Homo sapiens: one gene and its partner. The protein of the gene in region 1 interacts with the protein of each later gene in a pairwise test. Each region holds a gene or a part of one and is shown on either strand. Other genes may lie near its edges. The genes, in order: SNX11 and SMYD2.

Region 1 (7,270 bases):
ACAAGGTATTGCTTTCCAAGCTGCTCTCTCCAGGTTGCCCAGGCTGGAGTGCAGTAGCATAAACGTGAGCATAGCTCGCCGCAGCCTCAAATTCCTGGGATGAAGTAATCCTCCTGCATCAGCCTCCCAGAATAACTATGACTACCGGTACGTGCCACTGTGTGCACCTAATTTATTTATTTGTTTACTTATGTATCTGTAGAGACAGTATTGCTCTGTTGCCCAGGCTGGTCTCAAACTCCTGGCCTCAAGTGATCCTCCTTCCTTAACCTCCCAAAGCACTGGAATTACATGTGTGAGCCACCAAGCCGAGCCACACTATGTTGTTTATGAAACCCACTCCCAGCTTGGTGCCATGGTTCATGCCTGTAATCCTGGCACTTTGGGAGGCCGAGGTGGGCAGATCACTTGAGCTCAGGAGTTCAAGACCAGCTTGGGCGACATGGTGAAACCTCATCTCTCCTTTAAAAAAAAAAAACAGCCAGGCGCGGTGGCTCACGCCTGTAATCCCAGCACTTTGGGAGGCCGAGGTGGGTGGGGATCACGAGGTCAGAAAATCGAGACCATCCTGGCTAACACGGTGAAACCCCATCTCAACTAAAAAATAGAAAAAACTAGCCGGGCGTGGTGGCGGGCGCCTGTAGTCCCAACTACTCGGGAGGCTGAGGCAGGAGAATGGCGTGAACCTGGGAGGCGGAGCTTGCAGTGAGCTGAGATTGTACCCTTGCACTCCAGCCTGGGCAACAAGAGTGAAACTCTGTCTCAAAAAAAAAAAAATTAAATAAATAAATAAATAAAAATAAAAATACATAATTAGCCAGGCGTGGTGGCACATGCCTGTAATCCCCAGCTACTCGGGAGGCTGAGGCAGGGGAATCACTTAAACCTGGGAGGCGGAGGTTGTGGTGAGCTGAGATCAAGCCATTGCACTCCAGCCTGGGCAACAAGAGCGAAACTCCATCTCAAAAAAAAACAAAAAAGAGAAAAGAAAAGAAAATTAGTAGGGCATGGTGGTGCACCCCTGTAATCCCAGCTACTCAGGAGGCTGAGGAAGGAGAATCACTTGAACCTGTGAGGTGGAGGTTGCAGTGAGCCGAGATCGTGCCACTGCAAACACTCCAGCCTGCAGGATGAGACAGGAGCAAGACTCCATCTCAAAAAAAAAAAAAAGGCCGGGCGCAGTGGCTCACACCTGTAATAGCAGCACTTTGGGAGGACAAGGCACGTAGATCATGAGGTCAGGAGTTGGAGACCAGCCTGACCAAAATGGTGAAACCCCGACTCTACTAAAAATACAAAAATTAGCCAGCCGTGGTGGTGTACACCTGTAATCCCAACTGCTCAGGAGGCTGAGGCAGAAGAATCCCTTGAACCTGGGAGTTGCAGTGAGCCGAGATTGCACCACTACACTCTAGCCTGGGTGACAGAGCGAGACTCCGCCTCAGAAAAAAAAAAAAAAAGGAAAAAAGAAATCCACACCCACCATCAACTATTATTTTTAAAAAGGAAGAAACTGGAGTGGGACGCAGTGGCTCACAACTGTAATCCCAACAACTTGGGAGACTGAGGTAGGAGGATCACTTGAGGCCAAGGAGTTTGAGAGACCAGCCTGGGCAACAAAGTGAGACCTTTCTCTACAAAAAATACAAAAATTAGCTGAGCATGGTGGCACATACCTGTAGTCCCAGCTACTTGGGAGGCTGAAGTGGGAGAATCCCTTGACCCCAGGCGTTTGAGGCTGCTGAGGCTCACATTTTTTTGTAGTTGTTGTTGTTGTTTTTGAGACAGTCTCGCTCTGTCACCAGGCTGGAGTGCAGTGGCACAATCTCAGCTCACTGCAACCTCTGCCTCCCAGGTTCAAGCAATTCTCTGCCTCAGCCTCCTGAGTAGCTGGGATTACAGGCACCTGCCACCACACCCGGCTAGTTTTTTGTATTTTTAGTAGAGATGGGGTTTCACCATCTTGGCCAGGCTGGTCTTGAACTCCTGACCTCATGATCCACCTGCCTCAGCCTCCCAAAGTGCTGGGCGTGAGCCACCGCGACCGGCAGAGGCTCACTTAGCTAAGCTCTGTCTCAAAAAAAAAAAAAAAGAAAGAAAAAGAAAAACAAAACAAAAAAAAAACAGGCCAGGCTGGAGGATATAGGATTTGTCAGGGGAACGGAGTTTCACCTGGTTTATTAGGGCCTGCCCCAGGACAACAGCCTCATCAGTTCCACATGTTAACTAACTGACTTGGTCACTCAACAGGCCACCTATCACCACTGAGTATTCAGTGACCATCCTACAGCAAAATCACTGTTGTAATTCTCTCCACTTTCAGGACTTATTTGGCAGGTGGGTGTGAGGAGTAAATAATAACTGCCTTCCCTAGGCTCTCATATGTCTCTGGAAAAGGACCTCTGTATTAAAAGAGAAAAAAAAATCATTATTTTTACATGTGAAGTGGATGGAAACACTAGCTGTCAAATAAGTCCAGGTGCTTAAAATTTTCTGATAAGCAGATTTAAACTGTTTAAAATGTTAGCTGTATATTTGTTGAGCTCTAGACATATATGCATATAAAGAAAGAAAAATATTTTTGATGTTAGTATGGCTTTGTTAGGTAAAAATACTCGAAATTAGATTCTACTTTTTTCACTGACTTGAAAATATGATTTAAGAACATATATCTGGCCGGGTGCGGTGGCTCACGCCTGTAATCCCAGCACTTTGGGAGGCCGAGGCAGGCGGATTGCCTGAGGTTGGGAGTTCGAGACCAGCCTGGCTAGCATGGTAAAACCCTGTCACTACTAAAAACACAAAAATTAGCTGGGCGTGGGGGTAGGGACCTGTAATCCCAGCTACTCGGGAAGCTGAGGCAGGAGAATCGCTTGAACCCAGGAGGCTGAGGTAGCAGTGAGCCGAGATCACACCATTGTACTCCAGCCTGGGCAACAGAGTGAGACTCCGTCTCAAAAAAAAAAAAAAAGAAAAAAGGCGGAGCATGGTGGCTCACGTCTGTAATCCCAGCACTTTGGAAGGCCAAGGCAGGTGGATCATGAGGTCAGTTTAAGACCAGCCTGCCCAGGCTGGGCGCAGTGGCTCACACCTGTAATCCTAGCACTTTGGGAGGTGGAGATGGGTGGATTGCCTGAGCTCAGGAGTTCGACACCAGCCTGGGCAACGTGGTAAAACCTCATCTCTACTAAAATACAAAATAGTCAGCCAGGCGTGGTGGCAGGCGCCTGTAATCCCAGCTACTCGGAAGGCTGAGGCACAAAAATTGCTTGAGCCTGGGAGGTGGAGGGTGTCACTGCACTCCAGCCTGGGCAACAAAGTGAAACTCTGTCTCAAAAAAAAAAAAAAAAAGCAAAAAAAACCCAGCCTGGCCAAGATGGTAAAACCCCACCTCCACTAAAAATACAAAACATTAGCTGGGCATGGTGGTAACCCCCTGTAATTCCAGCTACTCGGGAGGCTGAGGCAGAGAACTGCTTGAACCCGGGAGGCGGAGGTTGCAGTAAGCCGAGATTGTACCACTGCACTCCAGCCTGGGCGACAGAGCGAGACTCCATCTCAAAAAAAAAAAAAAAAAAGAAGGCCTGGGCATGGTGCCTCACGCCTATAATCCTAGCAACTTTGGGAGGCTAAGGCAGGCAGATCACCTGAGGTTAGGAGTTCGAGACCAGCCTGACCAACATGGAGAAACCCCATCTCTACTAAAAATACAAAATTAGCCAGGAGTGGTGGCGCATGCCTGTAATCCCAGCTACTCAGGAGGCTGAGGCAGGAGAACCTCTTGAACCCGGGAGGTGGAGGTTGCGGTGAGCCGAGATCGCACCCAGGCAACAAGAGCAAAACTCAGTCTCAAAAAAAAAAAAAAAAGAACATATTTCCCAGCCAGGAGTGGTGGCTCACGCCTGTAATCCCAGCACTTTGGGAGGCCGAGACAGGTGGATCACTTGAGTCCAGGAATTTGAGACCAGCCTGGCCAACATGGACAAACCCCACCTCTACTAAAAATACAAAAATTAGGCAGGCATAGTGGTGGGCACCTGTAATCCCAGCTACTTGGGAGGCTGAGGCAGAGAGAATTGCTTCAACCTGGGAGGTGGAGGTTGCAGTGAGATGAGATCATGCCACTGCACTCCAGCCTGGGCAACAGAGCAAGACTCCATCTCAAAAAAAAAAAAAACATTATTTCCCAGCCGGGCCTGGTGGCTCACACCTGTAATCCCAACAATTTGGAAGGCCAAGGCAGGAGGACTGCTTGAGCCCAGGAGTTCAAGACCACCCTAGTAACATAGGGAGACCTCCATCTCTACAAAAATATTTTCCAAATTAGGCAAGTGTGGTGGCATGCACCTGTAGTCCCAGCCACTTGGGAAGCTGAGGTGGGAGGATTGCTAGAACCCAGGAGGTTGAGGCTGCAGTGAGCCATGATTGCACCACTGCACTCCAGCCTCTGTAACAAAGCAAGACCCTACATCAAAAAAAAAAAAAAACCCAAAAAACAAAAAAAGAAACAACATATTTCCCAATTTCCTTAGTGCCTGGTATGTTGCAAGTTCTCTTCATTGTCAACTCCAGTTCCTACATAAGCACCCAAAAAGCCAGTCACAGACCCAAGAAGGAAGCAAGAGCAAACTCACACCAAACCAGCATTTCTCTGTAGCTGCTTTCTCAGCCACACGAACTCACGGTAGCGGCGCCGCACACAGGAAGTCTTGGCAGTAAAGGCTTTGCTGTTGGTCTATACATGAAAGCACATGAAGTACATGAAAAGGGTTTAGTGGAAATAGACAAGTTCACATGAGCTCCCTATCATTGCTTTCACTGAGGAGCCATGCCATCAGGCCACAGACCTGATCAGGTCCCCAACTAGAACAAGGTGCCACCAGGCAGCCCAAAAGCAACTCAAAGACATACCTCAAGCTCTCTTTCCTTTCCTCCCTCCCTTTCTTCTAAGTCTTCTGTCTCGGGTCCACCAGAAACACTCAAAAATAGGTTACACCTTGACCTGCACGGTGGCTCACGCCTATAATCCCAGCACTTTGGGAGGCCAAGGAGGGTGGATCACTTGAGGTCAGGAGTTCAAAACCAGCCTGGCCAACATGATGAAACCCCATCTCTACTAAAAAAATATATATTCAAAATTAGCTGGGCGTGGTGGCACATGCCTGTAATCCCAGCTACTTGGGAGGCTGAGGCAGGAGAATCACTTGAACCTGGGAGGCGGAGGTTGCAGTAAGCCGAGATCACACCACTGCACTCCAGCCTGGGCAACAAGAGCAAAACTCCATCTCAAAAAAAAAAAAAAAAGGTTACACCTCAGTACAAGCCCCTCAGCCCTGCAGAGCGCTGACCCCAATACAGAAGCTTGATGTACTCACATGGAGGAATATCTTATAATCCACATAAGAGTTCCAGGAGCCCTCATTCTGCACTCGGGGGTCCTGAACACGCACTGTAATCACCTCCTGTAGGTAAGAAAAGCTCCCTCAGCTTCAGCTACACAGCAAGGCAGCTCTGACAACACAGGTCGCTAGATTTTTCCACCCAACACCAACTTTCATTCACTCAACACCAACTTTCATTTATTCAATTCAACTTTCATTCACTCAATTCAGTCACTCAATTCAACAAATTTTTACTGAGCCCCACTACGTGTCAGACACTGTTATAGGCACTGGGGATAAAGCATGAACAAGAGACGTAAGTGCCTGCCCCCATGAAGCTTACATTCCAGTATATTCCAATCAAAGGAAAATTTAGTCAGAATGGAACCCCAATTTCCTAGGAATGCCTCTGCTGTTGATTTCTTTCTCCTGACTTTATTCTGAGCTCATCAGAACCACCAAAGTAATACTGCAGGTAATAATTAATGATTTGCATCTCTATGTCCTCTTTCCTCCTAAATCCCCTCTCCAACTTTTACCCACCTGTTCTCTGCAGACCATACTCTTACCTCCTGTTCTTGGTTCTCCGACATCCTACACCAAAAGCCCATTGGAAGGAAACATCTGATGAGGGACAGAGGATACAGGATCAAGGTTAGTATGCCTCTGTTCTTATCATTCTTTACCAGGGAAAACCCCGAAAGTTTTTAATAGACCCCCGTGGGGAAACCCAGGCAACACTTTTTGTTCTTGTAAAACTTAAGAGGAAGCAAAAAAAAAATCCCCATTAGCTCAATGCCAAGCTAAAAGGCCCTGGGGGATTTGCCTCCCTTCTCAGACCAGGCCCTCAACTAGGCCACCTCTCCCCAAAGCGTGTTGGAGTCTACAGAAAGTTTGTCACACGCAGCCAGAACAGGCGGGTCCAGATGTAAAACTTTTGCCTTGAAGAATGCAGGCACAACAGGGTCTGGTGAGCACTCACATCACAGCATTTTTTTTTTTTTTTTGAGGCAGAGTTTCACTCTTGTTGCCCAGGCTGGAGTGCAATGGCACAATCTCGGCTCACCACAACCTCTGCCTCCTGGGTTCAAGCAATTCTCCTGCCTCAGTCTCCCGAGTAGCTGGGATTACAGGCACGTGCCACCACACCCAGCTAATTTTGTATTTTTAGTAGAGACGGGGTTTCTCCATGTTGGTCAGGCTGGTCTCGAACTCCTGACCTCAAGTGATCCGCCCTCCTCGGCCTCCCAAAGTGCTGGGATTACAGGCGGGAGCCACCACGCCCTGCCAGATCACAGCTTTGAAAGCGAGCCTAACAGCACCCCCTCCCGGCTGTTTAGAGACAACCAAGTCCCCACAAACACCAATGCTTCTGCATTTCTCCCAGTCTCACTAACAACCAGTCAACTCCCCACAGGTGAATCATAGAGCTAGAGCACTCCAAGGAGCACCTGAGTGGGTTGCCCAGTTGGGACCTTCCCCTTATCCAATCCATACTCTGGAACCCGAGCCAATTGTTCTAATTACTTCCTCTCCTGACATGCCATCCGGTTTGTACTTCTGTCCAAGCACCCCACAGCTGCACAGGTCGACTCAGGATGCGTTCTGCTCCTTTGTAAAGATTCATTAAAGCCTCAGCCCCTGATTTTCCCCAATGTGGCAGTTCACGTGTATAGCGACATCACCCACTCCGACAAGGGGACCATGAAGGCTGCAGCACGGGGTTACTCAAGTCCAATGGGGCCCATGATGTCACCTTCTGTTAAAATACAGCACTAATCTTGTTACTTCTACAACTATTCCAACAGCATCCACCCTGGCTGCCGCCTGCACCCCCTTCTCTCTTAAGAGAGAAACAATAAGGTTTAATTTCCCTTTCCAATTTACCT
Region 2 (7,270 bases), on another chromosome or scaffold:
TCTGTCCCCAGCTGGTAGGTCCCCATATCCTCTCAGGTATCCCGAGGGTCATCTCTGTCTTTTCCTCTTTGCTCTGCAGCTGAGGAGGGAGCTGATTAGTCTGCAGGGAGACAGACCCACCTGTTCCCACCTCTTCGCCTCATCACCATGCTCTCATTTTAGGCTTTGGCTAAAAACAGATTCTCTTCTCCCTTGTGCATATCTTGTCATTTCTTTTCCTCCCTGCTCTTAGTTATATTTGGCGCGGCATTATTTAACTCTGCAGAACATCTTGGCCCAGAACTTGAGCTAAGGGGCTGCACCATAGACTGCATTAAATCATTAAGTGACATTATGTGCTTCCTTCTTGGGGGATCAGTGTGGAGGGAAGCGGGTAGGGAGATATCTTCATTCCTTCAACAACTATATTGAGTGCCTACTAAATGCCAGGCACTGTTGTCAGTTCTGGGGTTACAGCTATGAACAAAACAAAATTTCTTTATTTTCCTGGGGAGAGACAGATACTAAACCAAACAACTAATAAATATATAATATGCTCAGGTGGTGAGAAGTACTAAGAAGCAGCAGAAAGCAAGGAAAGGAAGAATGATGGGGAAGTGCTCTTTCTGACAGGGTGATTGTGGCAGGTATCTTGAGAAGGTGACATTCCAGCAGCGGCTGGAGAGGAGGGAGGGAGTCACATGGATATCCAGGGGAGGAGAGTGCTAGCCACAAAACAGAGCAAGTGCGAAGGGCCTTGAGGCAGGTACATGGCTCCAGGCGCAGCCAGGACACTTCTGTGGCTAAGTGCAGTGAGGCAGGTGAGAGTACGGTGGGGGATGATGGGCTGGGGTGGTGCAGGGACGCTCCCATCACGTGTGGCCTCCTAGGTCACCTTTAGCGCTTGGCCTTTTGCCTGGATGAGAAAAGCCATTAGGTTTTGAGCTGAGGACTGGCCTGATCCGAGTTTTGTCAACAGAATCCCTCAGGCTGCTCTCTGGAACCTAGTCCATGGGAGCAAGGACAGAAGCGGGCATCCAGTTAGAAGGCAGTGGCAGGACATTAGTCATGAGAGATGTTGGGGCTGCAGCCGGGTAGAAAGGTTGTGGAGCTAAGAAGTGATCAGATTCCAGGCAGAGACAGAGGATTTGCCAGAACTGACTGAATGTGGAGTGTGAGTGAGAGAGCAGCGTCAAGGATGACTCTAGCTTTCTGGCCTGAGCATTTATTTTTATTTTTGAGACAGAATCTCACACTGTTGCCCAGGCTGGAGTGTAGCGGTGCACTCTCGGCTCACTGCAACCTCTGCCTCCTGGGTTCAAGCGATTCTCCTGCCTCAGCCTCCTGAGTAGCTGGGACTGCAGGCACATGCCACCACACTTGGCTAATTTTTTTATTTTTAGTAGAGATGGGGTTTTATCACGTTGGCCAGGCCAATCATAAACTCCTGACCTCGGGTGATCCGCCCATGTCAGCCTCCCTGCCCTGAGCATTTATGGCCATTTTCTGAGCTAGGGAAGGCCAAGGACAGAGCAGGACAGTACCCAATTCCATCGTGAAAGAGACAGTGTGTAAGGGCTTCCATCAGTATACAACGTGCTCTGATATTTCCCATCTAAAAAAAAAAAAAAGTCCCCCGCAACTTTTCACTACTCTAAGCTGTGTCTCCTTTCATTTTTTCTTGAATCTGCTCCCTGTCATTTCTTACCCCATCATCCCACCAAAACTTGTTTTTATGAAAATCATCAAGCTTCCATGATTCCAAATCACATTCTCCGTCCTCTCACACTAAGCCTATCTCCAGCACTGGCATCATCATTTACTCCCTAGTCCTCAAAGTACTTGCTTCCCTCAGCCTCCAAAACACCATGGTGTCCTTCTCTCAATGCCTTCCCCATCTCAAGTGATGGCGCCTCCACCCTTCCAGCAGCAAATATCCTTCATCCCTCTACCCGGGGCAGGGAAACTTCAGGGCGTATGATAGAAAGAATACTACTGTTAGGCCAGGCACGGTGGCTCACGCCTGTAATCCCTGCACTTTGGGAGGCCGAAGCAGGTGGATCATGAGGTTAAGAGATCAAGACTATCCTGGCCAACATCTTGAAACCCCGTCTCTACTAAAAATACAAAAATTAGCCGGGCGTAGTGGCACACACCTGTAATCTCAGCTACTCAGGAGGCTGAGGCAGGAGAATCACTTGAACCCGGGAGGCAGAGGTTGCAGTGAGTCGAGATCGCGCCACTGCACTGCAGCCTGGCAACAGAGCGAGACTCTGTCTCAAAAAAAAAAAAGGAAAGAAAGAATACTACTGTTTTATCCAGTGCATCTTTGGGAAGTCCTAACTATTCCTAAATCTTTCCAGTGGTTGCCCTTCATGAAACCCTCATTTGTGCTTTTTAAAAAGTCGCCTGTAAAAGGGACTCATTGCTGTGTAAGTCAACTCTCCATTATTTGCCCTGACGTGAGAACAAAGCCAGAGCGGAACTGTGAGGCAACAAAGCCAAATCAATGGCTGATACTCAAATTGCTCCCTCTGCAATTTGACAGCTTGCACAGATGATGGAAAGATGTATGTGTTGTTTAGAATAATGAGGGGCTGCAGAAAGCCATGAGGTGCTTGAGGAAAAAACACAAAGTAGATCTTCTCATCCCAACAAGCTTGACCCAGGCCTGAGTGAAGGTCATACAATCCTGCCTATCTTAAAGGATGTTTTTATCTCTAGCTTTTGTGAGCATCCTCGTGTTTTCCAAAAGGAAACATATTTTACTTGACCTTAACTAGGGGGACTCACTGCATCCTCTCCTCTCACACTTTATTCCAGTGTATGTGCTATTTTTTAATAATGTTTTTTTCAATCTTCCCAGAAAGAAGATTGGCCCATGCACAAGCTGGAATGTTCTCCCATGGTTGTTTTTGGGGAAAACTGGAATCCCTCGGAGACTGTAAGACTAACAGCAAGGATTCTGGCCAAACAGGTGAGGAAATGGGACAATGTTCAAGTGCATTTTATTTTGTTTTTCTTTTAAAGGTCAGAAAGATGAGTAACTGACCTTTGGTAACCATCTCTCGTTAAACATCCTTAGACTACATTTCCTATCATATCCATATGGACAGGGGTGGGGAAAATACTCCAGGCATAATCTAGTTAGTTGTGTGCCCTGTGCAATTAGGATGTTGCTTACCCTAGACCAGGAGCATAGCCACAGCTCTGAAATTCTGAGCTGTTTTCATGACAGGTTTACATGGAAATACGTGACATGAAAAGCCTGACCTCAAATAATTAGAGCTTCCTAGGGAACCAGATTGGTCTGAGCAGCTTTGAGATTTTCCTCTCTTTCCATTCTGACATAAAGAGTGTACTCTGTTCCCCTTTCCTGTGTAATATTCTGCTCTTTCTTGGCTCCTTTCTTGCCTGTGCATAGGCAGGCAAAGAATTGGATGGAACAGCCTTGACTATGACATGTGCAAAGAAGAGAAAGAGTGGAAAAGTAGAAATAGAGGCAAGGGAGAGGGGAAGAGAGTTAAAAAAAAAAAGTGAAGAAGAAGGAAAGAAAGAGGTGCCCTTGATGGAAACAGATGATAGTCATCAATGGCTTTCTCCAGAAGTGATGCCAACTCTGACTATTCTGTGGTGGGCAGGACTATGCAAACTTACGCTCAAAGAGTGAGGAAGCTGAGAGACAGAAGAAAGAAGCTGACAAATCCAGTTTATTAGAAACATTTACTAGGACTTATGAACTGAAGCCATGTCTATGTCTTGGGCGGCAGCAAGACAAGATGGTGGATCCCTGCACCATTACCCACCAGAGCCAGGGCTTATATACCATAGGGAAGAAATGTGTACAGCAGTTACAAGGAAAGGCAAGGATGCTATGCAAATCTGCCTGAGAGCAAGATTTGTGCTCAAGATTGTATTGACCTAAGGCAGGATTTAAGGTAGCCATAGACAAAGTAGAAATCTTAGAAGCATTCCCAGAGCAGGAGTTAACCAGAAATCAACATGGTATATCAGCATCCAAGATGAAATTGCTTTAGCCACCGTACTGACTGTTCTCCGCCTGGTCTGGTTCATTCTTGCTGATTGCATAATAATTAGACACCTAATCTTCGAAGGGCCAAACTAAAAAGAGGACAGGAAAATGCCATAGAACTTGTCCTTGTGATCCAATGAAATAGGCAGTGTGGGGCTTAGAAGGCATATGTCCAGGCTGTGGAGGTCTTGCTCCTCAGTGCTGTCAGAGAAGTTGGTGGCAGGGCCTCTGGACTATAAATCTTTTAAAGCTGAAATTTTGGCTGGGCATAGTGGCTCATACCTGTAATCTTAGCACTTTGGGAGGCCAAGGCAGAAGGATTGTTTGAATCCAGGAGTTCGAGACCAGCCTTGGCAACAAAGTGAGACCCATTCTCTATAATAAATTTTAAAAATTAAAAAAATTTCCCAGGTGTGGTGGTATACACCTGTGGTCCCAGCTATTCTGGAGGCTGAGGCAGGAGAATTACTGGAACCCGGAACTTCAAGGCTGCAGTGAGCTGTGATTGTGCCACCATACTCCATCCAGCCTGAGCAACAAAGTAAATGAGACTCTGTCTCTAAAAATGAAAAAAAAAAACAAACTGAAATTTCATCCACTTCTCCTGTATACCTACCAGCCCTCCTCCACCCTTAAAATTTTTCTATTTTTTAATCTAAGCCAAATGTGATGGAAATGATTAGCATGTATCTGTCCCCAGACCAAGTTAGGATCCTGGGCTGTGTAAACAGAAGTAGAACATTTCAAAACTCTGAGGTCATCCTTCAGCTATGTTCAGCTTGGGTCAGGTGCTTGCCGAAATGCTACCTCGCCAGCCAGCCGAGAGTAACAAAGGCCATTCATGGGTTGCCTGTAGAGTGAGACCAAAACATCAGAATTGTTTCCCTGCAGGAGGTTAACTTTCGGATCCTTAATAACAGTTATTTTTAAATTTATGCAGAGTATTTGGGCTGAATAAGTCAGAGGGAATAGGATGACTGGGTGTGAGGTATCAGAGTCAGTAAGTCATCAGATGGGATCTCCGCACATCTTGGGAGGATTGGGTGGCCAAGCTGGTGTTTTATTATTTTGTTCCCCTGAATTATTGATGATATTTATAGTGATATGTTAAGAATTCAGAAGAGGCTGGTAGACTTTCCTGAATGAAAAGCTTTCCCAAGCGAGATGACTTATAAATCTTATAAAAATGCATCCCGTGAATGGAAGATTTCTGCTCCAAAAAAGAACTATTGAAATATTTCGGCACCAGGAGGGTAGTCTGAATGCAAAGATGAGTTTATACAAGCTTCATTCAAGTTTTATTATAATTACTACTACTACTAATAGTGTATTAAATGAAAGTTACCTGCCCATCTTTTCATCTCTATAGGACTTGATGATTAAAAAAACAGACCATTTGTATTCTAGTAGCTTGCAAAGGATTAGGGGAGACAGGCTACCAAACTACCAAGGGGAGGCTTAACATGTTAACTAGGGAGGTGAGCGTGCCCTGCTAGACCACCTGTATCCCCAAATTGAATAGCCACATTACAAAGACATGGCCTTGGGCCAGCTCCTGAGCTCTGCCTTTGAACTCTTGTCAACACCAAGTTTATTCATGTTCTCAAAGCCTAGCGGGTTTACTATTGTTAGCTCCTCTTGGGGTGTCTAGAACAAAGCCAGCAACGCGTTTAAAGTGAATCTGGGCTCACAGATACAACCAAAAGTGTTCTTTTTGAAACACAGAATTTGAGATCATTTTAGCCTATGCTTAAAGAAAGTGTAAAATGGATGGGGGGTTTGATTTTGTTCCTTTTTAGAAGGAGAAATAATAAATAGGATGGTTTGTCTGTAGACCCAGTCCTTTTAAGTAAGGACCCTAAAAAGTTGTTTTCCGGCCCTGTTCTTTCCCGTAACAGGTATTTCTGAGCCTACTGTGTGCATAGTATTATCAGGGTGTTAGGTACACGGTAGACATTTAAAAAAGCGCTTTAGAAGAGTCTTTGGATTTGGCTGGTGGAGAGCCCTAGTGGTGGAGTCCTTGAGTAGCTTGTTTTACTTCCTTAAGAATTGTTACTTTTTCTTTATGTTGATGTAAAAGTGAAAGTGCCACTTTATTACACTGGTTGTTAAAAAATCTGTATCTGTGTGATTTCTTCCCCAATTGCTAGAAAATCCACCCAGAGAGAACACCTTCGGAAAAATTGTTAGCTGTGAAGGAGTTTGAATCACGTAAGTCTTTCTGTGACCAGCCGCGCAGTTCTCTCAGCCACAGATTTCACATGGGTTGGGCAGGATTGAAGCGAGGACGGGCTAGTTTGTGCTCAGAGGAGTAGTGATTTCTTTGATTACTAGTTTTTATTTTTACTCTTGTGCTGTTTCGAAAAGCACTTTTAGCTTTTTTCTTCTGAGTTGACAGGATTGTTAGGAAATAATTAAAGGAGGTAGGAGCTCCCAAAATGAATTATTGCACCCTGAGCTACCTCCTGCTGGCCCTCTTGGCATGCTGAATACTTTTGGATCTTTGCTGAATTGCGTCCTCTAAATAGCTGATGTTCTTACTGAAAGCCGTGAAATCAGGGGTTGTCCAGTTGTTTGACCACGGCCCAGATTCCCGGGCCAATTGGGGGGCCCTTGACTAGGCTGAGGCTGGTTATGAGTCATTGCTACCCATCCCTGACCTCATTGCTAACAGTCAGTCGAAATCTCACGTCCCAAGTGACTTCTAGTCATCAGAGGGAGAGAAGGAAGAAATGGCTTGCTTTCTTTCCTTAGGGTTTGTCAGTTAAACCAAGTAATGGGGAAGAATGTTCTCTGGGGGTTCAACATGTTAGTTTTGGGTTTTTTTTTTTTCGCCCGTTCCTTTCCTCTGTATCATTTACAGCAAAAATAGGATGTAGCTAGAAATCCCACGCTTTCTACTGGGTGAATAATGGATTATTTATCCACAGATCTGGATAAGTTAGACAATGAGAAGAAGGATTTGATTCAGAGTGACATAGCTGCTCTCCATCACTTTTACTCCAAGCATCTCGGATTCCCTGACAATGATAGCCTCGTAGTACTCTTTGCACAGGTAAGGACGCTGGCAGCAGGTAACACTCAGTCTGGCCTTTCCCTCTCCAAGGCCCTCTCCCTAGCAAGCACTCAGTGAAGATGAATGCAAATAGAATGATGGCATCTTCCTGACAACGAAGCTCTGAGCCAATTGGACCGTGTGTTGCCATAGCCTTGCTCAGTGACCTTGAGCAGATCAAGGTCCCCTCTGCTGGCCCTCAT

What was found.
Region 2: the proteins of SNX11 (region 1) and SMYD2 interact in binary tests that used the Homo sapiens proteins (3 or more experiments, as listed by UniProt).

Annotation. Positions count from the first base shown.
Region 1 is NC_000017.11:48,110,766-48,118,035, reverse strand, and holds part of SNX11 (sorting nexin-11), read right to left. Parts: exon of another isoform or gene 7,269-7,270; intron 6,006-7,268; 5' UTR 5,993-6,005; coding exon 5,951-5,992; exon of another isoform or gene 5,943-5,950; coding exon of another isoform or gene 5,925-5,942; intron 5,463-5,924; coding exon 5,376-5,462; intron 4,736-5,375; coding exon 4,635-4,735; intron 1-4,634. UniProt on the Homo sapiens protein: Phosphoinositide-binding protein involved in protein sorting and membrane trafficking in endosomes. Regulates the levels of TRPV3 by promoting its trafficking from the cell membrane to lysosome for degradation.
Region 2 is NC_000001.11:214,311,917-214,319,186, forward strand, and holds part of SMYD2 (N-lysine methyltransferase SMYD2), read left to right. Parts: intron 1-2,845; coding exon 2,846-2,956; intron 2,957-6,162; coding exon 6,163-6,223; intron 6,224-6,942; coding exon 6,943-7,067; intron 7,068-7,270. UniProt on the Homo sapiens protein: Protein-lysine N-methyltransferase that methylates both histones and non-histone proteins, including p53/TP53 and RB1. Specifically trimethylates histone H3 'Lys-4' (H3K4me3) in vivo. The activity requires interaction with HSP90alpha.